4 linked regions of the Homo sapiens genome follow. Changing the gene in region 1 together with any one later gene gives a genetic interaction. Each region holds a gene or a part of one and is shown on either strand. Other genes may lie near its edges.

Region 1 (7,018 bases):
ATATCTTTGAGATAGGGCTTAACAGAGCTTTAAAATCCATAGGAAAACACTTCGAGCCTGAGATACCAAGAGCAGATGGTTCACAGAAGAATCATCAATGTCCTATAAATATTTTTGAGGATCTTCTTGGGGAACTTAAAACAGGAACAGGCCAGGCACAGTGGCTCATTGGCTCATGCCTTTAATCCCAGCACTTTGGGAGACTGAAGGGGCTGGATTGTCTGAGGTCAGGAGTTTGGGACCAGCCTGGCCAACAGGGTGAAACCTCGTCTCTACTAAAAATACAAAAATTAGCCGGGCGTGGTGGCGCACGCCTGTAATCACAGCCGCTCAGGAGGCTGAGGCAGGAGAATTGCTTTAACCCAGGAGGCGGAGGTTGCAGTGAGCTGAGATCACACCACTGCACTCCAGCCTGGGTGACAGAGCAAGACTCCATCTCAGACAAACAAAAAAGGAAGACATAGAGCTCCTAAAAATAACGCAGAAGTCTGCTATTAATACAAATGAATTACTTTAAAGGTGAGAGCAGGTGGAGGAGAGGGCTGAGGTGCCTGCTGGGACGCAAAACAGCTGGCCCCTCAAGGGACCCAGTGTTTCCTGCCATGATGAAACACCTGTATTGTCCACATTGCGGCCTAGAATGTTATTAAACTCTTGAACGGGATTCCTTCTCTATTTGCAACCTTTCATTCTTTGTCCTTAAAGTAAATAAAGCCAAAGGAGGATGGAGCCTTTCCATCACCCCTCAAGAGGACCTGGACCGCCTGTGTGAGGCCCGAGCACCTGGTGCCACCGTCATCACCTTCCTTTCATGCTCTCTTCCCCAGGTAATTATGTGGTGACAGATCACGGCTCGTGCGTCCGAGCCTGTGGGGCCGACAGCTATGAGATGGAGGAAGACGGCGTCCGCAAGTGTAAGAAGTGCGAAGGGCCTTGCCGCAAAGGTAGGAAGCCCGCCGGTGTGCGGACGAGGCTTGTTCTCGGCTGCTGAGGCTGGGCTCTCATGCCACCTCCAAAGGAACACATCTTCCTCTTCTCATTAAAAAACAACTATACATATCGTTTCTTTAAAACAGAAGATAAAGCTGTAAAGCTAGGTTAGGCAATGGGAAGGCACTGAAGGTTGTGACGGGGTGGGGGGCTCTGATGAGAACAGTCACAGAGCCAGCCCCGCTCAGCAGCTGCCAGGTGCCCAGCCCTGGGGAGAATCCAGGGAAGGCAGAGCTGGAAGCAGTGCAGCTCCAAGCGGCCCATGGGAAATAATGAGGAGAACGCAAGGTCAGTGTGAGGTGACAGGGATGGCATCTCCTACACCGCCGTAGCCCCAAAGTGTACTATAGGTCCTGGTGTCCCCCCTTCCCGCCTGCACTCTCCCCAGCCCCTTCAGTGTTTGTTGAGTGAATGAAGGATGATGTGGCAGTGGCGGTTCCGGTGACCGGAATTCCTTCCTGCTTCCCTCTGCCTGTGGATCCCTAGCTATTCTTAATCCAACAAATGTGAACGGAATACACGTCTCTCTTATCTCTGCAGTGTGTAACGGAATAGGTATTGGTGAATTTAAAGACTCACTCTCCATAAATGCTACGAATATTAAACACTTCAAAAACTGCACCTCCATCAGTGGCGATCTCCACATCCTGCCGGTGGCATTTAGGGGGTGAGTCACAGGTTCAGTTGCTTGTATAAAGAAAAACAAAATCTGCCTTTTTAACTGGTAGAGATTGGTGATCAATAATCACCCTGTTGTTTGTTTCAGTGACTCCTTCACACATACTCCTCCTCTGGATCCACAGGAACTGGATATTCTGAAAACCGTAAAGGAAATCACAGGTTTGAGCTGAATTATCACATGAATATAAATGGGAAATCAGTGTTTTAGAGAGAGAACTTTTCGACATATTTCCTGTTCCCTTGGAATAAAAACATTTCTTCTGAAATTTTACCGTTAATGGCTGATGTTTTGATATTTTTCAAAAGTGCAGTTTCTCCTGCAGGCAAAAGGGGACACGTTAAGTCCAGGCTTGGGTCATTCACTGCGGTGTAAACACGCTTTCTCCCTCCCGCCCGGCCCCAGCCAGCTGCCTTGGTGGCCCATAACCCCTGAGGGTAGAGGGAGGGGACAGGGGTAGGTGACAGGCAGCCTGGGCCTCAGGCTTTTGAAACTGGACGCCAGAGCCTTGTGGGGCCACGGGCAAGCCTCGGGTCTATGACTGCCGCCTGAGCTCCGCTTCCTTCCTCTCTAAAATGGGAAGATTAGACCAAAATAACAAGACTGTTTTAAGGTTGGAATCAAATAAGGAAAATTTGTAAAGCTCCTTGTATGTGATACCAGATCCACAATTGGCAGATAATCGCAGCAGGAGCCTCTTCGGGGTAATCAGATACGCGGCGCAGCAGGGGTCTCAGGGCCACAGCCAGGGGGGCGGCGGGAGACATGCGGAATCGCAGCGGAAGGCGGGAGGCAGCTGTGAACTGTGGCTCGGCCTGCGTCCGCCCTGCGCATGTACACTCAGAGAAGATGATAATGAAAAAGAAAGCAAATCCAATTTTCCCACTTACTGTTCATATAATACAGAGTCCCTGAGAGTCTAGAGTAATGTCTCATACAAAAAAGAAACTCCTACGTGGTGTGTGTCTGAAGTCTTTCATCTGCCTTACAGGGTTTTTGCTGATTCAGGCTTGGCCTGAAAACAGGACGGACCTCCATGCCTTTGAGAACCTAGAAATCATACGCGGCAGGACCAAGCAACAGTAAGTTGACCACAGCCAAAGCCTGGTAGATTACATTTGCCTTTTTAGTTGGAAATTAGGCTTAACAGGAGAGTTGCTAAGATAGGGCACAGAGCTCCTGCATCTCTCGCCGGCATTCCCAAATGCTATCTCACATGAGCAGGCACAGGGAGCAAGACTGCACGACCACTGGCACAGGCTGTCCGCTAAACCACAGACTTCTCAGCGCTCGCCAGTGCTTCTGCTTCTGTGTCCACTCCAGATCCCACATTGCACTTAGTTGTCAAATCTTTTCAGTCCATTTCTAACCTATATTAGCTCCTGTGTCTTTCCTTGTCTTTCACGGCCTTGACACTTACAAAACGTGTGGGTCAGGTACTTTGCACACTGTCTAACCATGTCTGTTCAGCTGGTGTTTTCTCAGGATGCAATTGAGGTTATGCACATCTTATCACAGGGACCAGAGAGACTTTTTAGCACCACTCTTCAAGAATTTCCACTTTTTCAGCTTTGACAGTGGAATAGACATGCAGGTGCTCACACACAAGCATCTTTAATATGGTAATGGTAATCATCAGTTTAGTGGTGTGGAGGAGGAGATGGGAATCTCTTAGTGAAACCCGCCTTGGAAGCAGCCTCGTTATGAGAACTGCTGCCCCTACTTGACTCTTAAAGCACTAGATAATACTGTGCAACATTAAAGAGAATAAGAGTGCGTGAAATATGCATTGCCTCCCATAAACTCCCTTGGCTCTGAATCTCTGATACTAAATATGTGGCTACCGTTGCTTCCCAGAAAGGCCTTTTTGCTCTGAATTCTCTGGAATGCTTTCTTTGACCAAGATTCTTATAAAAATAAGAGATTTAGAGCAATTTTCTTGGATGGCTGGTATGAGCCAGTTGGCTTAGTTGTAGGGATTTAAACAAGATAAGGGTTACTTACTTTTCACATTTAATGAGAAGTCTGGTGATTCCAGCTCCTACTGAGACAGGGTGGCCACACGTTCCAGGGTGTGACTCACTGAGGCCCCAGACCTGCCCTGCAAGGAAAACCTGGCTCTGCCCTGGTGTCCTGGCCTCCCTGGGCATATGTGGGGGAGAATTCCTAATGGTATTGGTTACAGGCTCCTATGCGAGACCACTCATCTGTGTAGGAGAAAGGAAAAAGATGGGGGAAAGAAGAGCAGCAGGGAGAGGAGAAGCCTCTGGATGATACTCTAACCCCCTGCCATCCAACACCTGAACATCAGTCTCTTCATCCAGTGCTCTCAGCTGGCCCAGCCCCCAGCCTGGGGTCAGATGAGAGCTTCCTGCAAATGCAGATCTCTTTCCTGTGGCTCCTTCTCAATTACAGACAGCTCCTCCACAAGGTGCACTCTGGCCTTGTGCTCCCTCCCCAAACCAGCCCAGCCCTCCCAGCCTGCATCATCGTGGTCCTGTAGGGGCTAGAGGTTCTCACACCCATCGTGGTCTGGCAGAGGCTGGTGGTTCTCACACCCATCGTGGTCCGGCAGGGGCTTAGTGGTTCTTATACCCATCGTGGTTCAGGAGGGGCTAGTGGTTCTCACACCCATCGTGGTCTGGCTGGGGCTAGTGGTTCTCATGTCCACCGCGTGCTTTCCTGCTCCTCCAGGTGGCTGAGGACATCCCCCCTTCGGTCTGAATGACTTCCATCCAGTCATCTGATATACACATTGGACCACCCAATAGCATCCTAGTGTCATGTTGGATGGTGAAGAAAATGCCACAGTTACTGCTTTCAGGGCCTCACAACCTTGGGCATAGCTTTTTGGAGGAAGGCCCCACTTCCCAGGCATCCCTCCCAGACCTGGTCAGAGGCCCCTGCTCTTTGCTTCCATGTTGCCCACACTCACTGTGCTCTTCACACCGGCTCAAAATGATCTGCTTACGGGGTTGTGTCACCACCAGATCAAGCGTCCTGGAGAGGAGGAAACATATTTAACCTGCACAGAATTTGGGACAGAGAACCTCTAGTGTTTGTTCAATAAATATATGAATGGATAGAGGGACAGGTTGGGTGGTGGATAGATGGATGAACCCACACCTTTGAAGTGTATTTGGCTGTTTGAGAGGTTAGAATATGTTCTCAATTTCCAGGCAAAATGAAAATGGAGAAAATATAATGACATTAAGGCATTTTATTCATCCTCCCCATCTGCCACTGGGTTAAAGATACTAAATAAACAAGGAACTATCTTTTGCCTGGAGGAACTTTAAAAACACCTGCAGTTTTCAAAAGGTGCAGTGTGTGCCTCCCACAGCATGACCTACCATCATTGGAAAGCAGTTTGTAGTCAATCAAAGGTGGTCTGGAGAAACAAAGTTTTCAGGGATACATTGTTTTTATAATTTTTCACCACATGATTTTTCTTCTCTCCAATGTAGTGGTCAGTTTTCTCTTGCAGTCGTCAGCCTGAACATAACATCCTTGGGATTACGCTCCCTCAAGGAGATAAGTGATGGAGATGTGATAATTTCAGGAAACAAAAATTTGTGCTATGCAAATACAATAAACTGGAAAAAACTGTTTGGGACCTCCGGTCAGAAAACCAAAATTATAAGCAACAGAGGTGAAAACAGCTGCAGTAAGTCACCGCTTTCTGTTTAGTTTATGGAGTTGGTTCTAATGGGTCCTTTATTTGTATTTAGAATATTGAAGGGCTATTCCCATTTAAATTACTTTTTTCAGTTCCTTAAGAAGCAAATTAAAATCTTAAGATTCCTAACTGTGAAATTACCATGTGAATTCCATTAAAACTTTTTCCAGATCATTACCATTCAATGGGATGAATTTACCCTGAGGTTTAGGCTACCAATTATTTGTAATGTAAGTAACTAAATTTAGTATTAGTTATATTACCTTTTAGTTGTAGGTCACTCTCTGCTCATTTCAGCCTGTAAAGACTACAGCTACACACATACACACACAGAGGAATGGAATGAGCACTTTACATCAACACTTCCTGTTCTGGCTCTAGAGCCTCAGCTTTTGAAGCTGGTGAGAGCCTGGCCTGTGCTGGGCCTTGGCCACGGGCAGCGTCAGCTTTGAGTCAAGTGCTGGTCTGGCCTCCCTAGCTTTGAGCCTCTGTCAATTCCCTTAATCTGTTTAGGCTTTGGCTTCCTCATCCATAGAATGGAGATATGAATGATTCCTACGCCGTAGTGCTTTGAGAGAATTCAGTGAAATTCCTGTGTGTAAAACCCTTCCATGGTGCCTAGCACACAGCACACAGCCAATGGCCCAATGGCTCCTATCAGCTGTGGGATTTGTCATCAGAACACCACCAGCTCTGCTCCAGGCTGCCCTGGGTACCATCAAAACACACCCTGTGCCCAGCAGCACCTGCTCCTCTGCACACCTGGTTCCTTCAGCAGGGGCAGTGGCCGTGGGAGCACAGAAAACATGGAGTCCCATCTGGTTTAATTGATGCCATTGCCAAAGGGGAGGACTCACGGCACCCCCTCTCGGGTGCCAGGGTGCCTGGCTCCCACCAGGAGGAAGACCTGTCCTCCACTGTCAGGCACATTTCAGTCTTCCCAGCAGCCAGCACAACTACTTTGTCCTTCCAGTCACGGTCGGCCTCTGGGAAGCCCAGTCTGTGTCCTCCTCCTTCAGGGGTAGCCAGCATGTCTGTGTCACCCAAGGTCATGGAGCACAGGGCCCCTCCCGGGAAGGTGCCGTCTCCTCCGGCCCCTCGGGTCCCTGCTCTGTCACTGACTGCTGTGACCCACTCTGTCTCCGCAGAGGCCACAGGCCAGGTCTGCCATGCCTTGTGCTCCCCCGAGGGCTGCTGGGGCCCGGAGCCCAGGGACTGCGTCTCTTGCCGGAATGTCAGCCGAGGCAGGGAATGCGTGGACAAGTGCAACCTTCTGGAGGGGTAGGAGGTTATTTCTTTAATCCCCTTGCGTTGATCAAAAATAAGGCTCCAGGTTGTTGTTATAGCTTTACAGGCATTCTGTTTGATTTTCTCTTCCTTTTATTCTTTGCCCTTGGCTTTTGGAGGTTTTGGGTTTTCTGTGGGGAGACGGGAAGTTGTTTGATTGCGTTATTTTTGGCAAATTTAAGCACAATAGGAAATAAGCAAGTATTATTGCCTAATATAATCCAATAATTTATAGAATCTCTTTTCCTGGAAGTATCTTAAATTTTTCTAAGCTACAAAAAGTTCCTAAGACAAATGAGACAGTCATCAATGGTTCATCTAGCCAACACCGTGGCCATTTGGGCTTTTCTTTGTAGTGCCCGATTCCTGGTGTGTGAAAATAA
Region 2 (7,824 bases), on another chromosome or scaffold:
GTGGCTCACACCTGTAATCCCAGCACTGTGGGAGGCTGAGGCGGGCAGATCACTTGAGGTCAAGAGTTCGAGATCAGCCTGACCAACATGATAAAACCCTGTCTCTACTAAAAATACAAAAATTAGGCCAGGAACGGTAACTCATGCCTATAATCCCAGCACTTTGGGAGGCTGAGGCAGGCGGATCATGAGGTCAGGAGTTACAGACGAGCCTGGCCAACACAGTGAAACCCCATCACTAGGAAAAATACAAAAATTAGCTGGGTGTGGTGGCACACGCCTGTAGTCCCAGCTACTAGGGAGGCTGAGGCAGGAGAACTGCTTGAACCCGGGAGGCAGAGGTTGTGGTGAGCTGAGATCGTGCCACTGCACTCCAGCCTGGGCAACAGGGCAAGACTCCATCTCAAAAACAAAAAAACAAAAAAAAAATTAGCTGGGTGTGGTGGTGGGCACCTGTAATCCTAGCCACTTGGGAGGCTGAGGCAGGACAATCGCTTGAACCCAGGAGGAGGAGGATGCCACTGCACTCCAGCCTGGGTGACACAGAGTGAGATCCTGTCTCAAAAAAAAAAAAAAAAAAAAAAAAAGTATTCCTTCACAGTCACAGTCCTGGAGGCCAGAAGTCCCAAATCAAGGTGTCAGCAGGGCCACACTCCTTCCAAAGGCTCTAGGGGAGGATACTTCCCTGCCTCTCCCAGCTTTTGGTGACTGTTACATTCCTCAGTTTGTAGCCACATTACTCCCATCTCTGCTTCCATCATCTCTGTGTCTCAAATCTCCCTCTGCCTTTTTTTTTTTCTTTTTCCAGTGGCGGGTTCTGGTGAAGACAAGAAAGCCTACTAGAAACATTCTTTTTTTCTTTTTTTTTTTTTTTTTTTGAGATAGGGTCTCACTTTTGACATAGTAAGAGCACCAACATCTCAGACAAACACTGCCACTTTAAGTTCCAGCCCCCTTTCTAGCCTCATGAATTTTAAGGAAATTTCTTTTTTCTTTTTTTTTAATAGAGAAGTCTCGCTCTTGTTCCCCAGGCTTGAATGCAATGGCTGGATCTTGGCTCACTGCAACCTCCACCTCCTGGGTTCAAACGATTCTCCTGCCTCTGCCTCCCAAGTAGCTGGGATTAAGGTGCCTGCCACCATGCCCGGCTAATTTTTGTATTTTTTAGTAGAGACGGGGTTTCACCAAGTTGGTCAGGCTGGTCTCGAACTCCTGACCTCAGGTGATCCGCCCGCCTCCCAAAGTGCTGGAATTACAGGTGTGAACCACCGCGCCCGGCCAGGAAATCACTTCTAACTACAAGCAGCCAGAAAGAGGAGACAGTAAAACACAGAAAGACAGCTCGGACAGAGAGAGAGTGGGAAGAAAATTTCTTGGGTAACTGCCAAACTTCACCTTCATACAACGGGCCCCAGTAAAACAGTGGGCCTTAATAAGCACATTCCTTTCCCTTCAGGTGCACTAAAATAGGCAAGCTAAAAGCAGAGTAGGGGGGTATGCCTGCAGCTGCAGAAAGATGTATGGGAGGCTGGGCACGGTGGCTCACACCTGTAATCCCAACACTTTGGTAGGCCAAGGCGGGCAGATCACAAGGTCAAGAGATGGAGACCATCCTGGCCAACATGGTGAAACCCCGTCTCTACTAAAAATACAAAAATTAGCCGGGCCATGGTGGCGCGCGCCTGTAATCCCAGCTACTCGAGAGGCTGAGAAAGGAGAATTGCTTGAACCTGGGGGCGGAGGTTGCAGTGAGCCGAGATCACGCCACTGCACTCCAGCCTGGCAACAGCGCGAGTCTCCATCTCAAAAAAAAAAAAAAAAGAAAAGAAAAGAAAAGAAAAAAGAAAGATGTATGGGAACAGACACACAACTCTCCCTCCCAGATAAGCACAACGAAGAGACACAGAAGCAGTTCAAGCCTCTGATAAACTCTCCGACCCTGAATCCTTAAAAACTCTTAGTCTGTAAAAGAGTGTTACTCTGACCCAACTCCGCCAGAAGGCGCCTCTCAGGTTTGTTTTCTCTAAAATAAACCTGTCTTGACTGGCAAGCCACCTTTCGTGTTTCTTTCCTCTTTAATTCTTACAACTTTGTCACCCAGGCTGGAGTGCAGTGGCGCGATCTCGGTTCACTGCAACCTCGGCCTCCGGGTTGAAGCGATTCTCCTGTCTCAGCCTCCCGGTAGCTGAGATTACAAGTGCCCGCCACCACGCCCGGCTAATTTTTGGTAGACTCATGGTTTCTCCACGTTGCCCAAGCTGGTCTCGAACTCCTGGGCGCATGCGATCTGCCCGCCTCGGCCTCCCAAAGCGCCAGAATTACAGGCGTTTGAGCCACTGCGCTGGGAAACTGTGTTTATCATTCTGAGTCCAGCGGAATACAGTGCCCGTCCAAAAAAGTGCTCAATGAAGAATGAATGAATGAATGGGTAAGCTCTGGGAGAAATAACCAGGCTGGTTGGGCAGGGAAACGTCCTTCTCTGAACTTTAGGGTTCTCATCCGTAAAATGAGGATAAGCAACAGTCTCCATCTCACGGGAACTGAAGGTATGGCTGAACAAAATAGGCTTATTGTCACTACAGTGGCATAAACACCTCCCTTACTCAAAACACTTTCAAGGGCGCAGAGAGAACGCTGTACGAGTGAGCAGTACCGTAAACTGTTACTGCTCTGGGTTCTGTCACGGGACAGTGACTACTCCTCACTGAACTGTGGAAGAGGTGGCCCAAAAAACGCGAGAAGAAAAGAGAAAGTTTTTAGACGCAGAACGCGGCTCGCGGCCACCAGAAAGCGTCCTCCGCCTCCGCCCCCAGCGTCCCCGCGCCCCTGCGCGGCCGCACCTTCACCCGCTGCGCCTCGTTTATGCACTGCTGGTAGCTGCCGATGTAGAAGGCGTTCTTTACGTCGAACAGCTCGTCTACCTCCCCGGAGCCGCCGGAGGCCGGGCCGGGGGCCGGAGGCGCCATTTCGCTGTCTTCTCACCAGCTCCTCTTCCTGAAAGACACGTCAGCCGGAAGCAAGACACGGGCACGCTAGGAAATGTAGTTTACTTTTTCCGAGCGGCGGCGAAGTAAGCCAATGGGAAGCTCCACAATAATATGCAAGGGGGCGGAAGGCGTAAGTGCGTCACGGAGAGCATCTCGGGAATTGTAGTGTGTTTCTGCAAGCCAATGGGATCCGGGGAAACATGATAAGGATGCGGTCGAGGCTGGGAATAGGCTGAGGGAGCTGGAGAGGGTGGGACCACGCAGGAGGCAGATCCAATAAACAGGAAGATTTTTCTCGTGACGTCGTCGGCGCGCGCCGGAAGCGCGGATCACACGGGCCCCTACAAGGGGCCCCTACAAGCGGCCACAAGGATGGCAGGCTTCGCGGAGCTCGGGCTGTCATCGTGGCTCGTGGAACAATGTCGGCAGCTGGGTTTGAAGCAGCCCACGCCCGTGCAGCTCGGCTGCATCCCCGCCATCCTGGAGGGTGAGTATGGCCCAGGGCCTTCCCCAAGAGGCCTCTCCGCTCCTCTCGACTCCTTTCCCTTCTCGCAACCTTTGCTTATTCCGGTCCCACGAGGCGAGGGGCAACCTCGGGCGTTACAGGAGATCCGGGGTTCCGGAGGACGACTGGACAGTGTTGGCATTTAGGTTGCATGACTGACTCGCTTTGTGTTCGTACGCAAGTGATGTAATCTCTGAAATTTTCATAGTCTCAGCACAGGGAGGGTTTGATGGATGACTAGTCCGATAGTATCGCAAAATCCTGCAGACCTGGTACTGCTATCTTTATTTTACAAATAGAAGTTGAGGCTGTCAAAATTGCTGGTAGATCCAGGACTCCTTGGTCCTGTGATTGCTCCTCTAGGAGAAGGTCTTCTCTCTGCTCCTCTAGCCCAACCCAGTTTCGCCATTAAAGAGAGGCCCACAGGAAGCCTAAGATGTGATAAGTCAGGGATTAAATAAACAAATGAAGGGGTCAACAGGGAGCACAAGATGCATATGAGGGAAGGGAATTCTGGATTCCCCAAATTCACGTGCTCCTGGACGGAGTTAGAACGAGGTGGTAGGAAGCTGTGGGCATCTCGGGTCAAATGGATATGGGTTCCAGTCCAGCCTGCCACTCACTGGCAGTGTGTCCTGGGCAAGGTCTCTGAAACCCAGCTGTCCACACATGGAGGGTGTTGATGCTGCTTTGTCCCCAACCCAGGTCGAGACTGCTTGGGCTGTGCTAAGACAGGCAGTGGGAAGACAGCAGCGTTTGTCCTTCCCATCTTGCAGAAGCTGTCTGAGGATCCCTATGGCATCTTCTGCCTCGTCCTGACACCCACCAGGTAAGCCCCCAGCAGGCCTCCTGGGTATGGGTTAACCAGCTGTGCTCTCTTGGGCAAGCACCTTTCCCTCTCTGAGCGCCCTTTTCCCACGTGTGAGATGAGCATGAAAATCTTGCTACCCGCTTCTTAGGGGTCCTGCAGAATTAAACAAGATGGCCCCGGTGCAGTGGCTCACACCTGTAATCCCAGCACTTTGGGAGCTCCAGGTGAGCGGATCACTTGAGGCCAGGAGTTTGAGACCAGCCTGACCAACATGGAGAAACCCCGTCTCTACTAAAAATACAAAAAATTAGCTGGGCATGGTAGCGCATGCCGTAATCCCAGCTACTCGGGAGGCCGAGGCAGGAGAATCGCTTGAACCCAGGAGGCGGAGGTTGCGGTGAGCCAAGATCGTGCCATTGCACTCCAGCCTGGGCAACAAGAGCAAAACTCTGTCTCAAAAAAAAAAAAAAGAAAGAAAGAAAGAGGCAGGCAGCAGAAAGGGTACTGGGACCTGGGCATATTGGAGCCAGTTTGAGAAAGGCCTTGAATGCCAGGCGGAGGGTTAGAATTGATTCTGGGGGTGTGTGAGCAGGAAAGGTCATGAGCCAGGGAGAGGCCAGGACAGAGTTGGTTGGGGGCAGAAAGGAGGCTGATGCTTGAGACCCTCTGGCTGGGGCAACTGGCTGGTGGTGAGGCCATTGCTGAAAGGCGAACTGGGGGAAGGCACAGGTTTGGGATAGGAAGAGATGCTGAGGTCAGCTTGGGTCGGGCTGGTGAAGGAGGGATGTTCCAGGCTGAGCCTGGCGAGGGGGCAGGGGCCACAATGGCCTCCAAGGCTCAGCATCAGAGCCTTTGTGAACAGGACTGGGCAAGTCAGGAGCCTGGGGGCTCAGGGAGGAACCCTGGGGATGGAGAGGGGAATGGGGGGCAGGTCCAGAACCACTACCTGACCCAGCCTGGCCCCTTCACACCCACAGGGAGCTGGCCTACCAGATCGCAGAGCAGTTCCGGGTCCTGGGGAAGCCTCTAGGGCTGAAAGACTGCATCATCGTCGGTGGCATGGGTACGGGAGCTGGGAGGCGGGGGAAGCCCCAGCATGGGACCCTAGCAGCTTTGGACCACCTGCCCAGCCCTGCCTCTCATGCTCTGTCCCCCAGACATGGTGGCCCAGGCGCTGGAGCTCTCTCGGAAACCACACGTGGTCATCGCCACGCCGGGGCGCCTGGCAGATCACCTGCGCAGCTCCAACACTTTTAGTATAAAGAAGATCCGCTTCCTGGTGAGTTCGCCCCGCCCCTGCAGACCTCAGGAGCTGGGCTCGGAGCCTCCAGGCCCAATGTCAGAGCCTGGGGCACCATCTCATCCATTTAGGAAACGTATGTCCGTTAGACTGTCCAGTAAAACGCTAGGAACAGTGACAAGGACCGTTCAAGGACCAACAAGAGGGGGCCCAGTCCTAGCAATGTTATTCGGGGGTAGGGCCTTGCTGAGACTTGGGTGAGGGGCAGGCCTCCCTTGGAAGGAGGGTACTCCAGGGCCTAGGGTCCATGTCCATGCCTCTCAAAGAGGCCTGCTTCAGGGGTGGCCAAGACCCGGGGCCATGGACGGCACCCTCACCCCTGCCCCCATTGGCACGGCAGGTGATGGATGAGGCAGACCGGCTGCTGGAACAGGGCTGCACTGACTTCACCGTGGACCTGGAGGCCATCCTGGCGGCTGTGCCGGCCCGCAGGCAGACACTGCTGTTCAGCGCCACGCTGACCGACACACTCCGGGAGCTGCAGGGTCTGGCCACCAACCAGCCCTTCTTCTGGGAAGCACAGGCCCCGTGAGTCCACAGCCCAGACAGCGTGGGGAGGGCAGCCCCATCCTACAGACAGGGACACTGAGGCGTGGCGGTCTATCTGTCCATCCCCAGGGTGAGCACCGTGGAGCAGCTGGACCAGCGCTACCTGCTGGTGCCTGAGAAGGTCAAGGACGCCTACCTGGTCCACCTGATCCAGCGCTTCCAGGATGAGCACGAGGACTGGTCCATTATCATCTTCACCAACACGTGCAAGTGAGCGGGGCCCGCCTCTCCCCTCCCACCGCCCTTCAAAGGAGGAGGTGGCCCGACGTCTTTGGTCTGGGACACACAGCCAGTCTCAGCACTCCCCAGCCTCTGCTCAGCCTGGAGGTCATGGGGGCTTCCCTCAAGGAGCCAAGGTCCCTCAATCTGAAGGTGCAGCCGGCCTTTGGGGTTCCTCAGCCCAGCCGTTGATGGAAGGGCCAGGAAACCCCTGCAAGCAGCTGTTTGAGCAGCCCATTTGCTGTGTTCTGGGGGTGTCACTGAGCTTTCCTGGGCCTTTAGTCCCATCTCAGAGGAAGTTGTGACAACTAACAGGCCTGGTGTGCGTCTGCACAGACAGAGACCCCTGGGGAGGGCAGTTCATATCTTCATTGAATTGTTTGGGAAGGTCATTGAGAAGCTGGAGGCTCTTCCAGCATGAGCCAGGATAGAAGGGCAGAAATCAAGGCGCTTTAAATGCGTTACCTCCCAGAAGAGAAAAGTTGGGACTGGGTGCAGTGACTCACACCTGTAATCCCAGCACTTTGGGAGGCCGAGGTAGGCGGATCACCTGAGGTCAGGAGTTCGAGACCAGCCTGCCCAACGTGGTGAAACTTCATCTCGACTAAAAATACAAAAATTAGCCAGGCATGGTGGCGAGCACCTGTAGTCCCAGCTACTGGGGAAGGTGAGGCGGGAGAATCACTTGAACCCGGTAGGTGGAGGTTACAGTGAGCCGAGATCACGCCACTGCACTCCATCCTGGGGGACAAAGTGAGACTGTCTCAGGGAAAAAGAGAGAAAAGTTTGGCTGCAGGGTGGCTGTCAGGCGTGGCAGGATCCAGCAGCTTATGTGATGGTCCCCATCCTTTCTCCCTGTGCCCCTCTTTCTCCTCTGTTTTCCTCTGCTGGCTCCTTCTTGGCCTTCTTGGTAACAGTGACCACCCCTAGCAAGTCAGTTTCCAGCCTTCCAGCCCTGCAGTCCCAGGGCCAACTCTTGTCAGTTCCAGCTCCAGGGAGGGATCAGCAGAGAGGACATCAGGCAGGCAAGCCGTCTGTCAACCCTCATCCTGCCTCTTTTTTTTTTTTTTTTTTTTGAGAGTCTCACGCTGTCCCCCAGGCTGGAGTGCAATGGCGCAATCTCGGCTCACTGCAACCTCTGTCTCCTGGGTTCAAACAATTCTCCTGCCTCAGCCTCCTGAGTAGCTGAGGCTACAGTCATACACCATCATGCCCGGCTAATTTTTGTGTTTTTAGTACAGATGGGGTTTTGCCATGTTGGGCAGGCTGGTCTTGAACTCCTGGCCTCAAGTGATCCACCCGCCTCAGTCTCCCAAAGTGCTGGGATTACAGGCATGAGCCACCGTGCCTGGCCTGCTGCCTCTCCTTTCTAAGCTGCATGAGGCCACTGTGCTAGGTGTCTCAGGGGCGGGTGGGGGCAGGAACACCTTCCCAGAACCTGAGAGCTGGAGGG
Region 3 (7,241 bases), on another chromosome or scaffold:
TCATGGGAAACTAAGGAATTAAATTTAAGTGGGATTTCTCAACCATCAAACTTTTCAGTTAAATGTTTAGTTTAAAAAGTCTTAGGGGAACACAGTGGCTTGGCCTGTAATCCCAGCACTTTGGAAGGCCAGGATGGGTGGATCGCTTGAGCCCAGTTCAAGACCAGCCTGGGCAACATGGCAAAACCATGTCTCTACAAAAAAATACAAAAATTAGCCAAGCATGGTGGCACCCACCTGTAGTCCCAGCTACTCAGGAGGCTGAGATGGGAAGATCACTTGAGCCTGGAAGGTTGAGGCTGCAGTGAGCTGTGTTCATGCCACTGCACTTCAGCCTGGGCAACAGAGCGACACCTTGTCTCACAAAAAAAAAAAAAAAAAAAAAAAGCCTTGGCTCTGTAGAGTTCACAGCGATGCCTAAATTCAAGGCTCCATACATATTCTGGGGCAAACCATGCCTTCTGAATAAGCCCTGCCATGCTCTGCCAACCTTACCACCATTAATATTTTCTCAAGCATGTCCCTTTATTTTTGAACCAAACCCTCAAATAAACAGATACAAATAATCTGTTCATACAAATATTTGGCAGAAGCCTAAATAAAGTTGGGTTTTTAAACCTCTCAGCCTAAAATATTTCTTGCATTGGTAGAATGGCTATTAGATTCCATTTTTAAATTGTCACATGTAACACAACTTAGCAGTGAGGAAACTGATTTTATTTTCACTTGACCAAAACTCCTAGTACCTCATCCCCAATCCCTTCTCAGGGTAATGTTCAGTTGCTTTGTTACTTTCAAGATAGAACTAAAAACTGTGGGATAAACTAAAGATCCCAGAGATTAAAAAGCGTGAAATCACTAAGCTAATCATCAGACTTTGCCCTAAAAAAAAGCTGTTAGTGTGATAGGGATCATATACCAGTTTATTTATACTTTATTTTTCTCCTTAGCATTTATCACTACTAAACGAGTTATGTATTTGACTTATTTATTGTCTCCTCTGCAGAGGAAGCAACACAAAGGCAGGGTATGTTTCTTTTCACTGCTTTCATCTCTAAGTCCTACAGCAGTGTAGGACCTCAATAAACTATTCTACAAAGTCGGCAAATGCCCCACAGATAAGAGTTTCTCCTAATAAAATCCTACCTGTATCACCCAATAAATGACTAAGAACTCCTGAAGGTTCCAAAAATCTAAAATCACAACCACACCTACCTTATCCATATTTCTTCCTTAACCTACAATAGCCCCCAACTAATCTACCCACTCCACTTTCTCCTTCTCTACTTCGTCTTTCATACTGATGCCAGAATGTTGTTCTCAAACAAAAACTTTATCTCATTCTCCTACTTATGTGTCCCTTAGCTCCACAAGAAAAAGTCCAAGCTCCTTAAAAAAGGAAAATAAAGTCTTCTACAAAGCAAGCCATCTCTTCAGTCAGCTCTCCAGCCTTACCAAAGCACTTCGGTTCACAGCCCACTGCCCACTTTCAAATTCCTACTGCCATACTCCACCTGGAATGACCTTTCCCACTTCGTACACCCTCTGCTCATTTTGTTTTGATTTTTGGTGTTTTTTTTTTTTTTTGCGACGGAGTATCGCTCTCGTCGCCCGGGCTGGAGTGCAATGGCGAGATCTCAGCTCACTGCAACCTCCGCCTCCTGGTTTCAAGCGATTCTTCTGCCTCAGCCTCCCGAGTAGCTGGGATTACAGGCGCCTGCCACCACGCCCGGCTAATTTTTGTATTTTTTTAGTAGAGACGGGGTTTCACCATGTTGGCCAGGCTGGTCTCGAACTCCTGACCTCAGGCGATCTGCCCTCCTTGGCCTCCCAAAGTGCTGGGATTACAGGCGTGAGCCACCGCGCTCGGTTCTGCTCATCTTTTAAAACCCAGTTCAATTCATCTCCTCCAAGAAGCTTCATCGACTCCCCCAGGATTCACTCGCCCCATGATCTGACTGCACTTTGTACATACCTCCACTAGAGCATTTATCACTCTGTATTGTAATTATGTCTGTGTCCAGCTCCCTCACTAGATTGTGAGGTCCATGAGGGAGGGCGGTGTCTTATTCATCTCTGTATCCCCTGTGCCTAGCGAATACAGATGCAGAAAGGCCATCTCCAGATCAAGAGGAAATTAACCCAAGATTGGTTATATGGGATTAGATCTCTGGAAGAGAAGCGCCCATCACCTGCAGTGGGCCCCCAGATGACTGGATCTTGTGTTCAGGCATTTCAGAGACAGGAACATAGAAATCTGACACAGCCGCAGCCAGGTAAAACATCGCAGAAGGGCCTGCAAAGAGAAACACAAGGTGTTAACAAATCGGCGAGGTACGATATAGGATCAGCTCCTTCTCAACTCGGGTTCCCCAGCTGAGATCCGTGGGTAAGCAGGAGGTAAGGGGATAAGTGGCTGGAAAGAAAGGCTGTGCTTCCAGGCAAAAGGGGTACTCCTAGGGCACGCACCTAGCGGATTGAGTGCCTGGGCCGCAGCCTGCAACAGATGCAAATAGTCCGCCAAAGTGGTGAACTCTACTGCCAGGAAGGTGCCTGCAGCCGCAGCCTCCTGGTAGCTCCTCAGAGCCTCAGCAAAACCCGGAAGTGCATTCTCCTCGGCCTCCAGGCTCAGCAAGCCCGAAAGGGCTGGGCCCGAAGGCCGCAGAGCGGACAGCCAAGTCTGGGGTGGGAAGCGGTGGGCATAGGGGAAGGCAGAGCGAGCGCGATACAAGAACAGGACCCCGTAGCCGGCGGCTAGGAAGGCCTCGGCCGAGGTTGCACCGCGCCGCCCGCTGCTGAAGTTGTCCAGGAAGCGCACCGGCCGCGCTTCCAGTGGGACCTTGGTGCCGCCTGACGTAACCAACACCACCCGCCGGCCCTGCGCGCCCAGCCTGGCCGCGAAGCGAGCCATAACCTCAGCCCAGCGCGCAGCACCGGGAGGCTGGGGGAACTCGGCTACCGGATCCATTTCCGCCATCTGCAGCGCAGCGGCCGGCGCCTGCGCACGTTTCGCGGCCGCCGCGCCACGCCCCTTCTCGCCTACCTGGTGTACGCGCCGCGCCGTACTGAGTGGGCGGTTCACTACCCTTCTTTTGACACTAGGTCCCGATCTCGCCAAGTCTGGAAATGCGTAGTTGTTCTGCCCCAGAGCCCAGCGAAAGTGACACTGCAACGAGGGGGATCCCCGGCTGGGTGGGCATCTGGTAGGGTCACGTTCCCTCACGTTCGTTTCCTAGCCTGGGTGAAGAACTGGCCATGTTTGACCCTTACCGGCCACTGTACGGGCCTTTCTGGACTTGGACTCCTTGGGAGTCGTTTCTCGGCCATTTGACCCGTGGGACTTGTGGGTTTTGTGCTGCTTTTTCTTTCTTTCTTCCCCTTTTCCAACTTCAGCAATACACCCAGATGTTAGTCGAGTCACGTCCCGCCGCCCTCTGCCCTTGAAATGCTGGCAAGTACGCAGCCCCGCGATCGTCACGTGACGCCGGGGTTCAGCGTATCCTTGCTGGGCAACCGTCTTAGAGACCAGCACTGCTGGCTGCACCATGAATGTGATCTACCCACTGGCAGTCCCCAAGGGGCGCAGACTCTGCTGTGAGGTGTGCGAAGCCCCAGCCGAGCGGGTGTGCGCGGCCTGCACAGTCACTTATTACTGGTAGGCCCTGAAACGTGGCACCTGGGCGCTATAACTCCCTCCCTCTCTCCCTTTCCCGGGTCTGGCTTGGGTACCTTGCGTTAGCCGTTGCCCCTGACTCTGCAAGGGACACCTCAAAACGGCTTTAAGACAGGCCCCTAAGACTCCCGTGGCCTCGTCTGTCTCATCTCCCACTTATTCGTCACTCATGTTTTCTGAAGGCGTACTCTGTGTTATGCACTATTTTAGGTGCTAAAGTTACTGGGGCAGCTCGGTAGATCAGTTCCTTCAAAGATCTAACATTCCAATGTGGGAGACAAATCAGTAAAGAAACAGGCCGGGCGCGGTGGCTCACGCCTGTAATCCCAGCACTTCGGGAGGCCGAGGCGGGCGGATCGCCTGAGGTCAGGAGTTCGAGACCAGCCTGGCCAACATGGTGAAACCCTGTCTCTACTAAAAAATACAAAAATTAGGCGGGAGTGGTGCTGGGCGCCTGTAATCCCAGCTACTCGGGAGGCTGAAGCAGAAGAATCGCTTGAACCCGGGAGGCGGAGCTCGCAGTGAGCGGAGATCGCGCCACTGCACTCCAGCTTGGGCAACGAGAGTGAGACGATAGTGAATGGGGCAGTATGTGGAAAGCTTTCCCTGTGGAAGAAACATTTGAGCTGCATTTTGAGAGGGCAGTCAGAACCTGCTGTGTACAGGAGTAGTGAAGAAGGGTAGGGCATTCCCGGCATCCGGGACTGCTAGGGCAAATGGCAAAAGAACAGAGTTTGCTAAGGGCCGAGTGGAGAACGTAGTAGTGGAGGGAGCAGTCAGTGATTTTCAAACTGCAGGCCAGGGCCCTTTAGCAGTTTATGAATAAGTCACAATCACCATTTAGAGAAAACAACAACAACAAAAAAGAGCACAGAATGAGTAGAAAGTATCAGGTTAATCCTACCTGAATTGTTTCTTAAAACTTTTGTCTTAGTGTTTTATGTGGACATGTGTGTGTGTACAGGAAAAATGTATTTCTTACTATAGGTTGAGTCAAAATTAGCCGGATGTGGTGGCGTGCACCTGTAATCCTAGCTACTCGGGAGGCTGAAGCAGGAGAATCGTTTGAACCCGGGAGGCGGAGGTTGCAGTGAGCCGAGATCGCTCCATTGCACTCCAGCTTGGGCAACAAGAGTGAAACTGTGTCTCAAAAAAAAAAAAAAAAGTTGGAACATCATTGTGATAGGTAGTAGAAGTTTAAACCAAGAAGATAAAGGTTAGGGCTAGACAGTGACATGAGATCAAGGGTTTGGAATTTATCTCCTGGGAAACCATGAATGGTTTTGAGCTGACATGCTCTCATTTGTGTTAAGGAAAGAGGATGGGCTGCAGTGTGGCAGATACAGAGGAAGGTAGACACTGACGGCTGCATAACAGATCAAGAAGCTGTTGCAGTACCTTCTCATACTGGCCTAGGTGTCCTTCCTCAGTGCTCTCAAAGCACTGAGTATGTCCCCTATCCTAACACTTAGGACATGGACTGAAATCATTTATTTATTTCTTTCATTAGGCTGTATGCCCCACAAGGGCAGGGATGGTATCTGTGTTTTCATTGCTATCTCCTCTTTGGTGGCTTCCTTGCCTTTAGAATATAATTAAGAATTTGTAACAGAAAATACAAGGCCCTGGTTATTTCTCTACCTTCACTTCCCACCACACTCACCCCATTTTTTCTTTGCTGTAGTTATAGAGAACTGAAGTTCTAATTTGCTAAGCCCTTTCTTCCCTCAGTTTCTTTTCCCAGTCTGTTCTCTCTGCTAGGAACCTCCCCTTCAACTACAAGCCTTCCTGGCTCCCTTTCATCCTTCAGTTCTCAGTTTAAATGTCATTTCTTCAAAGAGGTCTAAACCCAGTCTCAACTCCCCGTCATACTTTTCTCTCTCACAGTACCATTTTTCTTTGCTTTTTCTGTACTTTTATATTATTGTGTTTGCTTGTCTGATGTCTATGTCTTTTACTAGACCCAGTGGCCACACATACCAGACACTCAATGAACATCTGTTGAATAAAACTAAATGGATAATAAACCCATTAACTTGGGCAAGGAACACGGGGAAAAGATGACGGGCATCAGATTTGGTTGTAGGCATAGAGTTTAAGAGGCCTTTGGGTCACCCCCAGAGAGATGGCCAGTAAACCGCCGTGGGTAAAACCTGCCACTCAGGCTTGGGAAAGATTCAATCCTTTTGCTTGGTGTGAGCACTGACTTTTTCCTTAAAACACCCCTGTCCTCTGTATCCCTCCAGCCGGAAGTAATTCCTTCTTCCTCTGAACTAACTTTACAGTACTCTGTATCTCTCAGATGACTCATATTTCTCTTCATTTTAATTGTTGGTGAGTGTGTTATTTCAATTCTGTTATGCTCCATTAATGCTAGATACTATGTCAAATGTGTACAGAGGGACTGTCAAGTATGCTAACTTTTGATCTATGTCCGACCTGTCATTGTATGCCCCATAGTCTCTAGCAAAGTGTCTTGAAATAGTTGGCACTTGTGCTTTTATCCCTTGGGCCAAAAAATAAAAATGTGAAAAAAAAGACATAGTTGGCACTAATATCTGATAAATGCATGTATAAATTATCATCTTCTATGCCCTTATCTTCGATTTTTTTTCTTTTACTTGCTTTTAATTCTCTTTAAGACCTTCTCCTTTTGTTTTTTTGCTTCCTTTTCTCCAGATTTCTATGTCTTTGGGTCTTGCAGATTTCAAGATTTTTTGATAAAACAAAACTGAGGTTGTTGTTCTATAGGTTTTGATGGTCGAATGTAAAGCATCTAGTACCCTTCCTGGAACCATGTTGGCACACAGTAAATGTTCCTTTTCATCATCCCAAGTTTAAGGAACAAGAAAGTCAGTCTGAATTTGTGAAAGTTTTTTTCTGCAAAAGAATTTTTTTCCTGATTATAATTGCAATTCATGCTCACTGCAGAAAACCTGAAAATATAAAAAATCAAGAAGAAAAATAAGCCATAGTCCCACAACCCAGGGATTAATAACCTGAAATTTTGGTGAATTTCCTTCTTTTCTCTGAATACATTTATTTTATATATTGTGTGTAATCTTGTGCATATTGCTCTATAGTGGATTATGACCATTCTCAGAGAATAGCACATTTTTATTTACTTTAGAGACACAGTAGAACTTTTATTTTTTTATTATTTTTTTGAGACGGAGTCTTGCTCTGTCACCCAGGCTGGAGCGCAGTGGCACCATCTTGGCTCACTGCAACCTCTGTCTCCCGGGTTCAAGCAATTCTCTTGCCTCAGCCTCCCAAGTAGCTGGGATTACAGGGATGCGCCACCACGCCTGGCTAATTTTTTTGTATTTTTAGTAGAGACGGTGTTTCACCATATTGGTCAGGCTGGTCTCGAATTCCTGACCTTGTGATCCGCCCTCCTCGGCCTCCCAAAGTGCTGGGATTACAGGACAGTAGAACATTTTTAAGAAAAGGTAATTTTATGGAAGTACATACTAAAACATTGGTGACAAGTAAAAGAGACTTCAGTACCATAGGTTTGCATGAATTTAAATGTCTTTAGTCAGGGCGTACATTCTGTAATTCACTA
Region 4 (7,838 bases), on another chromosome or scaffold:
TTTACAAGTCATCAATTCCAAGTGTTGGCAAAGATATATGGAGCAACTGAACTCTCATACTGAGACAGGAGTGTAAGTTGGTCAATCACTTTAGATAATTATCTGGCATCATCTGCAACTACTACTAAATAGTCACATAACCTGTGACTCTGCCATGCCACTCTTAGGTATCATATACCCAGTAGAAATATGTACATGTGTTCACTAAAAAAACATAGCAGCACTATTACTTTTTTTTTTTTTTTTGAGACGGAGTCTTGTTCTGTTGCCCAGGCTGGAGTGCAGTGGCACAATCTCGGCTCACTGCAAGTTCTACCTCCCCGGTTCACACCATTCTCCTGCCTCAACCTCCCAAGTAGCTGGGACTACAGGCACCCGCCACCACACCTGGCTAATTTTTTTGTATTTTTAGTAGACACGGGGTTTCACCGTGTTAACCAGGATGGTCTCGATCTCCCGACCTCGTGATCCGCCCGCCTCGGCCTCCCAGAGTGCTGGGATTACAGGCGTGAGCCACCATGCCCGGCCAGCAGCACTATTCCTAACAGACCAAAGTGAAAACTGCCCAAATGCACTGTCGATGGAATGGATGAATACGTTGTGATATACTTACACAAAACACACCATACAGCAACAAGAATGAACAATCTACAAATACACGCCAATCAATTTCTGAATTCCAGGTCACTCCCATCATAAAATACACAAGGACTAAGCTAAAATCTCCCTTGTTGTCAGAACTTGCTTCAAGTCCTAAGGGCATGGTTAGAGATCAGAGTATTTTAACTGAATAGGAAAATACTTTGAGGTCACTAGGCTTAAGTTTTTGTTGTTGTTGTTTTTTGTTTTTTGTTTTTTTTTGAGACACAGTTTCACTCTTATTGCCCAGGCTGAAATGCAATGGCACAATCTCAGCTCACCGCAGGGTGAGCTCCACCTCCAGGGTTCAAGCAATTCTCCCGCCTCAGCCTCCCAAGTAGCTGGGATTATAGGTATGCGCCACCACACCCGGCTAATTTCTGTATTTTTAGTAGAGACGGGGTTTCTCCATGTTGGTCAGGTTAGTCTCGAACTGCTGACCTCAGGTGATCCACCTGCCTCGACCTCCCAAGCAGGCTTAAGATTTTTAAAAATTAAAGTAAAAGTAAAAAAATAAAATAAACAGACTTCTAAAAGTGACCTCAATGAGCAGAACTAAGAAACAATGGGCAGCAGTAATGGAAGACAGATCCAGCTTAATGAAAGGACCGGCCGGGCGCAGTGGCTCACGCCTGTAATCCCAGCACTTTGGGAGGCCGAGGTGGGAGGATCACCTGAGGTCAGGAGTTCAAGACCAGCCTGGCCAACATGGTGAAACTCCATCTCTACTAAAAATACAAAAAAATTAGCCGGGTGTGGCGGGATGCGCCTGTAATCCCAGCTACTTGGGAGGCTGAGGCAGGAGAATCACTTGAAGAGAGTGTTGCAGTGAGCCAAGATCGTGCCATTGCACTCCAGCCTGGGCAACAAGAGCGAAAACTCCATCTCAAAAAAAAATAATAATAATAATAAAAAGGAAAGGACCAACGACCAGAATTAACAGTGCTGACAGGTAGGAAGGTAGGGTAGAGATGTGGTAAAGGGAATTTAAGATTCCAACGTAACTGAGCAGGAAGACCGCATATCTTAGCTAATCTTTACAGAGACAGAAATGGATGCTTAGAAAGAGAAAGCACCTTGCCCAGTCAGTGGCAGGGAGAGATGAGATACAAATCCTCGGCTGGGTATAGTGGCTCTCGCCTATAATCCCAACACTTTAAGAGACCAAGGTAAGAAGATCACTTGAGCCCAGGAGATCAAGGCCAGGCTGGGCAACACAGGGAGGCCGCGTCTCTACCAAAAATGTAAAAATTAGCCAGGTGTGGTGGCACGTGCCTGTGGCCCTAGCTACCTGGTAGGCTGAGGTGGGAGGATCACTTGAGCCTAAGAAGTTGAGGATGCAGACAGCTGTGATCTTGCCACTGCACTCCAGCCTGGGCGAAAGAGCAAAAATCTGGCCTCAAAAAAAAAAAAAAAAGAGAAAAATCCTTCTCCAACACTAGGAACTAGGTGTGGAACTTACTGAGTCACTTAGGTCAAGTCTCAACTTCCTCATCAGTCAAGTTAGGCCAGTAACTCCTACCTTCTAGTGTCTTTGTGACGAAGGAATGAGAACAGGAGTGAAAGCACTTTACATTATTTGTTATTACTATTATCCAGCAGCCTTTGCTAGAGGGTTGCCCCGATCTCCTGACGCTTGGCCTGAGAGATTCTATAGTGCCCAGAGATAACAGATGATACCCTGGGAATCCCTAGGTCACTCCGGGTTCCCTCCGGGGGTGTAATTAATGGTGCTTGGAGACCACTCCCTCCCTCGGCGTCCTCCACCTGCCTTACCCACACACATGCGCCCGATGATGCGGCAGCCGGCGATAGACGCGTGCACCACGGGGATGGTATCGGAGAGCTCGCCCTCGAACACACTGTAGGGACATGGACTCGGTGGTGGCGGGGCAGAGGGGCCGGCACCCTCCCACTGCCGGAGCTCTTGACTCCTGCGCACGCCTCCCCGCCACCGTAAGCCCCGGGGCTCCCGCCGCACCTGTAGAAGTTCTCTGAGCCTCCGATCGCTACCAGACAGTAGGTGTTGGTGAGCTTGGCAAAGCAGCCGATCTCACAGTTGTTCTCGAACGAAGCTCGGACCGCCATGAGGCCTAGGGGCGGCGGAGGCGGGAGTTCAAGGCCGGCGGATCCTTTCCCAAGTATCCCGGCCTCCGTCCCTCAGGCCCCGCCGCGACCCCGCCCCTCTCGGCCTCCCGGCCCCTCCGTCCTCGGGTCCCGCCCACTGGGCCCCCACCAGAACCTCCGGCCCTGAATCCTCTGGCCCCCACCCCTCCCGACCCAGGACCGGAGCTGACCCTCCCAGGTTCCCCTCACACCAGCTTACCAAGTAACCAGTAACAAGCTCCGCACGCGGCGACTGTACCTTGGACTCCCTAAAAAGGTTTCCGTTTCCACTTCCGTCCAGGGAGACTTCCGGGAGAGCCCGGCGCTCCCCGCCACGCATCCAGCCCCTCTACCTCCGGCCTCCGGCGGACTCTATGGTCGCGAGCGGTCTGGGCGCGACCCCGCCTGGCCCCACGCCTAGCCTGCTCGCGTTCATTCATTCATTATTCATTCAGGAGCTTTTTAGGAGCTGTCATCGACCTAGACCTCCGGCTGGTCGGTTGTGAGGCATGAGGGAGAGGAGGGGCCAGGAGTGTCTCGCGGAAGGGTTGATGATGGAGGTATTGATGGAAATGAAGCCGGAGGAAGGGCAGGTTTGGGGAAAGGGATGAGTCCAGCTGTGCCTTGAGGGACAGAAGTCCATGTCTGGAGCCCAGCAGGGGAGTGGAGTGCTGACGAATGAGATGAGGGGCTGAAGACGGGTGGACTAGAAGAGGCTACCCATGGAGAGAGTTCCAGGAGGCAGAAGTGCGGCCAGACCGAGGCTGGAGAAAGAGCGCAGCCAGAGACGGAAAGGCAGCCAGGCTGCAGGTGCTGGAGAGAGGGGAGGACTGAGGAAGCAGGGGCTCAGGAAAAGGCTGGAAAGGGGTCCAGGGTGGGCAAGGATGTGGGTGCTGGTTGGCTTCCACGATGTGCCTCTCGCACGGCCTCTATCACTCACTCAGCAGCCAACTTCTGTCCCCAGGATAGTGATGGGGGCCAAGGGCCCTGCTGCACACTTGGACAGGATGAACTTGGCCCACATTTTGTAGAATCTGCAAAAGCCCCGGGTTCTCTCAAAATGTCACAGTGGTAACTTGGAGCCCCTGGACTCCCCCAATTCCTCCTTCGGCATTCACCCTCCTCCAGGGGTTTCCCCATAATTGGCCTGAATGGTGCCCTTCCCATTCCCCCAACGTGTCCCTCCCATAACTCCTCAAAGTTCAGGATACACCAGGCGCTGTGATTCACAATAAAGTCTGCCTTTATTGATGTGTATCATGTTTACTATCCCGGGTAAGTGGTGAGTTCAGGAAAATGGCCCACAACCTGTCACAGCCTGTACTTCAAGAGACACTCAGCAAGATGATGACGACGACAATGATGATGATGATGATGATGACTCAGCAAGATGATGACGACGACAATGATGATGATGATAATGATGATGTGTGTGTGTGTGTGTTTCCGGGTATCCACATACTCTGCTCTTCCTCACTCATTCACCTCAGACCCACTCAGTCCTCTTTAGGGCATCTCTTTCACCTGATTCTCTCTACCAAAAATTTTTCTAACTCTCTCCTCCCTCTGTCCAAAACCTCCCCATCCTTCAGGGCCTGGCTCAAAGGCCACCTCCATCTCCTCTAAGAAAGTTTTCTGACTACTCCACCTTCTCCAGGACTCTCTGCCCTTTGTTTTCTAACACCCTCTGTAACTGGTTAACCTTTAACTTGATATGGCTCTGACCCCTTCTCCAGCAGCTTGTGCATTTCACCTCTGTCCCCAGGTCTGAGTGTGACCCACCTGTCAGCTCTACAGGCCCAGCACAGGGCTGGAAACACAGCCTAGATTCAAGAAGATACTAGTTAGGGTGTGTGTGTGTGTGTGTGTGTGTGTGTGTGTACACAAGAATCTTGAGCCCAGAGAGTGTGTCTGACCTGGGTTTCTAGACACCTCCCTTCCCCAGTCTGGGACCTGAGCAAGTCCAGAGTCTCGGTGGACAGAGGAGGGGCCTGCCCTTGCCAGTGCACCCCCGATGCCAGTCCTTTGGCTAGGACTCAAAGCGGCTTCGGAGCTGCTTGAACTTGGACTTGTTGTACTTAGTGATGAGGTCCAGTTTGCTGTGACCCAGGGTCAGCCGTTTCTCATCCCTGACCAGGTCACTGTTACCACCATTGAGATGGCCACCCTTGGGACCCCCAGGCTCAGTTCCCTGCCTGGCCCCGTGCAACTGATGATACTTGGTGATGAGGTCCAGCTTGCTGTGGCCCAGGGTTAGCCGTTTCTCATCCCCAGACCCAGCTCCAGCCGTGCGAGCAGGGCTTGATATCGGGAGACCATTGGGCCCAGGCCCCTCACCACGGAATGGGCCGAACTTTGTGATGAGGTCCAGCTGGCTGTGCCCCAGGGTCTGCCGCCGCTCATCTGGTGCCCGTCTGGCAGGTCTGGCTGAGGAGTTGGTTTCAAGGGGCACTCTGGAACCCTGGGCCTTGGGGTACTGCATCAGGAGGTCTGATTGGCCACGGCTTTGGTTTAGGGACAGCCTCCTGTCCTCCAGGGCCCGATCACCAGGTCTGAGGGAACCCAACTCAGGGGCACCCCCAGTACCCAGGGCTCGGGACAGGAGATCCAGCTGGCTGTCGGCCTGGCTTGGGGACAACCTCCTGTCCTCTGGGGCCTGCTCGCCAGGCCGAAGGGGGCCTGAGTTGGGGGTAACCCCAGAGTCAGGGTCTCCCACTTCTCGGGCTCTGGGGAAGGGGACAAGGAGATCCAGCTGGCCACGGCTCTGACTTGGAGATGCCTTCTTCTCCTTCTCCTCCACTGTCTCCAGGGTTGTGCCAGGTACCCATCGACCCCGCAGGGGGCTGGGCTCTTGGCTTCCTGGGAGCCCATTCTCTGGGAACCGGGACAGAGCTGGGGCACCCCGATGGAACTGGAGGAGGGGCCGGGAGCGAGGAAGCAGAGGTGACCCCACTGCCAAGGTTAAGGGGCTGGTACTATTATGGTTGAGGGCAGGGGAGGACTGGGACCATGGGTATGCCCCTAGCTTGCCGAGATTGGCCCTATAGAGCCCAGGAGGGGAGCCGTGGTTAGGGTCTGACAGTTGGCGATGTAGGGAGGGCTGGCCACTGGCCTCACGGCGGGCAGGACCCAGGGACGAGGACACCACACCCGTATCACTGCAATCACCACCTCCTGGTAGAGCGAGGTAGGAGGAGCGACCCATAAGCGGTGACTGCTTGATGCTGCTGAGGCTGGTGCTGGAGGGCAGGGACGACGTGGGGCTTGGGACATCAGGCCTGAAGGCTAGGGCCACAGGGGGAGGACGCAGTGCCCGGGGAGACAGCGGGTCCTCACCGCCACAGAAGCCCTCCACAGGCTGCGACTCAGCGTACAGACAGCGGAACTCCCGGTCAAAGTCTTCCACGATGCGGCCCCTCAGCTGCAGCACCATGCTAGTGTGGGCCTGGCTGCAAAGCCAGGTGAAGCTGGGGGCAGAGGGACAGGGGGGTCAGGAGGCAAAGTGCAGGATCCTGGGGGTCGGCAGGAGTCACAGCCAGGGGTGCATACCTGGTCCAGCACGCTAGACCCAAACCCCACCACCACGAGGGCTCACAGCGAGGGGCAGAGCTCCAACTCCAGAGTCTGTGCTTGCCCTAGCCCTGCTTAGTGTGTGACCTCATGGAGGCCCCAACTTCCCCATCTGTCAAATGGACTTGGGGGAGGTTCCCTGAAGTCACTCCAGTTCCAATGGGCATAGTCATTTTCTATACCAAGGGTATTAAAGTAATCATTCCCCTAGAGTGAGCTCCTCCAGGGCCGATGCCCCCGACACCCTCCCCTGAGCCTGGCATGATGCCTGGCACATGGCAGGTACTCAGCCCGTGTCCGAAGGAAAGGATGAGTGGAGGGAAGCTCAGAGCTGCCAGCCAGTGATGCAGCCCCAGGCCCCCCTTGCCTCCTCGTGCCTGCTCACCTGTAACTGCCCGCCACCACTTGCTCACAGTCAATGAGGACGAACTTCTCCAGGGCCTGCCCCGTGAAGCGGCGGCCAGCCTTGCTGCAGTATGTGTCCCCACACGTGCTCCGCACACGCATGTTCTAGGTGGAAGTAGGTTGGGGGTGACCTTGAGAGAGTGAGGCTCAAGCCATGTCTCTGCCCCATGGGGTCTCTAACCCCAGACAGCTAAGGGAACCCACCCCCCACTCCCAGTGCCCCCCAGTGCTGACTGGCCACCCACTGGCTCCCCTGCCCTCCCTGACTCCCCGCCCACACCCCTGGTTACTGCCCCTGGTCCTCACTGACCGGCAGGTGCTCCCCATTGAGGTCCATCTTGTAGCACATCTCCAGGAAGTGCCTCAGGTGCTCCTGGGCAAGGAGCAGGTACACAGGGACACCACGCCGGCTTGAGGCCTCCATGAGGTCACACAGAAGCTCCATGTCAGTGAATATGTCCATCACCACAGCCACCACCTGGGTGGGGGGAGGCACACGAAAGCTCAGCGCTGCCCAGGGCACTCCCCACATCCAGCCAAACCTGGGGCAGGAAACTGGGCGCCGGGAAAAGAGTACTGGACTGAAAATCAGGAGGCCAGAGCCTTCAAGAGCAAGTGAACAGGAAGGGCACTTAGCAGTGACCTAGCCCAGGGCTTCTTAACTTGGGCACAGGCAGATTTGACTGTCTTCTTTTTTTTAAGAGTCAGTGTCTGTCTCACTCTGTTGCCCAGGCTGCAGTGCAGTGGCGTGATCATAGCTCTCTTCTGCCTAGAACTCCCAGGCTCAAGCAATCTCCTCCCAACTCAGCCTCCCAAGTAGCTGGTATTATAGGCATGTGCCACTATGCCTGGCTAATTTTCTTTTCTTTTTTTTTTTTGAGACAGAGTCTCACTCTGTTGCCCAGGCTGGAGTGTAGTGGCGTGATCTCGGCTCACTGCAACCTCTGCCTTCTGGGTTCAAGCGATTCTCGTGTCTCAGCCTCTCAAGTAGCTGGAATTTCAGGCATCCACCACCATGCCCAGCTAATCTGTATTTTTAATAGAGATGGAGTTTCACCATGTTGGCCAGGCTGGTCTCAAACTCCTGACCTTGTGATCTGCCTGCCTTGGACTCCCAA

The links.
Region 2: changes in EGFR (region 1) and COPE together harm fitness more than expected from each alone (negative genetic interaction), as found in Homo sapiens cells (2 studies listed by BioGRID).
Region 3: changes in EGFR (region 1) and PPCS together harm fitness more than expected from each alone (negative genetic interaction), as found in Homo sapiens cells (2 studies listed by BioGRID).
Region 4: changes in EGFR (region 1) and EIF6 together harm fitness more than expected from each alone (negative genetic interaction), as found in Homo sapiens cells (2 studies listed by BioGRID).

Annotation. Positions count from the first base shown.
Region 1 is NC_000007.14:55,155,003-55,162,020, forward strand, and holds part of EGFR (epidermal growth factor receptor isoform a precursor), read left to right. Parts: intron 1-827; coding exon 828-944; intron 945-1,530; coding exon 1,531-1,657; intron 1,658-1,756; coding exon 1,757-1,830; coding exon of another isoform or gene 1,831-1,841; exon of another isoform or gene 1,842-1,937; intron 1,938-2,660; coding exon 2,661-2,751; intron 2,752-5,136; coding exon 5,137-5,336; intron 5,337-6,496; coding exon 6,497-6,629; intron 6,630-7,018. UniProt on the Homo sapiens protein: Receptor tyrosine kinase binding ligands of the EGF family and activating several signaling cascades to convert extracellular cues into appropriate cellular responses.
Region 2 is NC_000019.10:18,916,383-18,924,206, forward strand, and holds the start of COPE (coatomer subunit epsilon), read right to left. Parts: upstream 3,006-7,824; 5' UTR 2,967-3,005; coding exon 2,841-2,966; intron 1-2,840. Other genes in the region: probable ATP-dependent RNA helicase DDX49, read left to right, coding at 3,360-3,474, 4,198-4,321, 5,281-5,366, 5,461-5,582, 5,944-6,131, 6,222-6,362. UniProt on the Homo sapiens protein: The coatomer is a cytosolic protein complex that binds to dilysine motifs and reversibly associates with Golgi non-clathrin-coated vesicles, which further mediate biosynthetic protein transport from the ER, via the Golgi up to the trans Golgi network.
Region 3 is NC_000001.11:42,452,302-42,459,542, reverse strand, and holds the start of PPCS (phosphopantothenate--cysteine ligase), read right to left. Parts: upstream 3,001-7,241; 5' UTR 2,978-3,000; coding exon 2,470-2,977; exon of another isoform or gene 2,297-2,469; coding exon 2,193-2,296; exon of another isoform or gene 1,976-2,192; intron 1-1,975. Other genes in the region: ZMYND12 (zinc finger MYND domain-containing protein 12), read left to right, coding at 3,546-3,655. UniProt on the Homo sapiens protein: Catalyzes the second step in the biosynthesis of coenzyme A from vitamin B5, where cysteine is conjugated to 4'-phosphopantothenate to form 4-phosphopantothenoylcysteine. Has a preference for ATP over CTP as a cosubstrate.
Region 4 is NC_000020.11:35,281,761-35,289,598, forward strand, and holds the start of EIF6 (eukaryotic translation initiation factor 6), read right to left. Parts: upstream 3,013-7,838; 5' UTR 2,966-3,012; intron 2,958-2,965; exon of another isoform or gene 2,733-2,957; 5' UTR 2,728-2,732; coding exon 2,621-2,727; coding exon of another isoform or gene 2,502-2,620; coding exon 2,416-2,501; intron 1-2,415. Other genes in the region: protein FAM83C, read right to left, coding at 4,775-6,212, 6,701-6,825, 7,031-7,198. UniProt on the Homo sapiens protein: Binds to the 60S ribosomal subunit and prevents its association with the 40S ribosomal subunit to form the 80S initiation complex in the cytoplasm. Behaves as a stimulatory translation initiation factor downstream insulin/growth factors.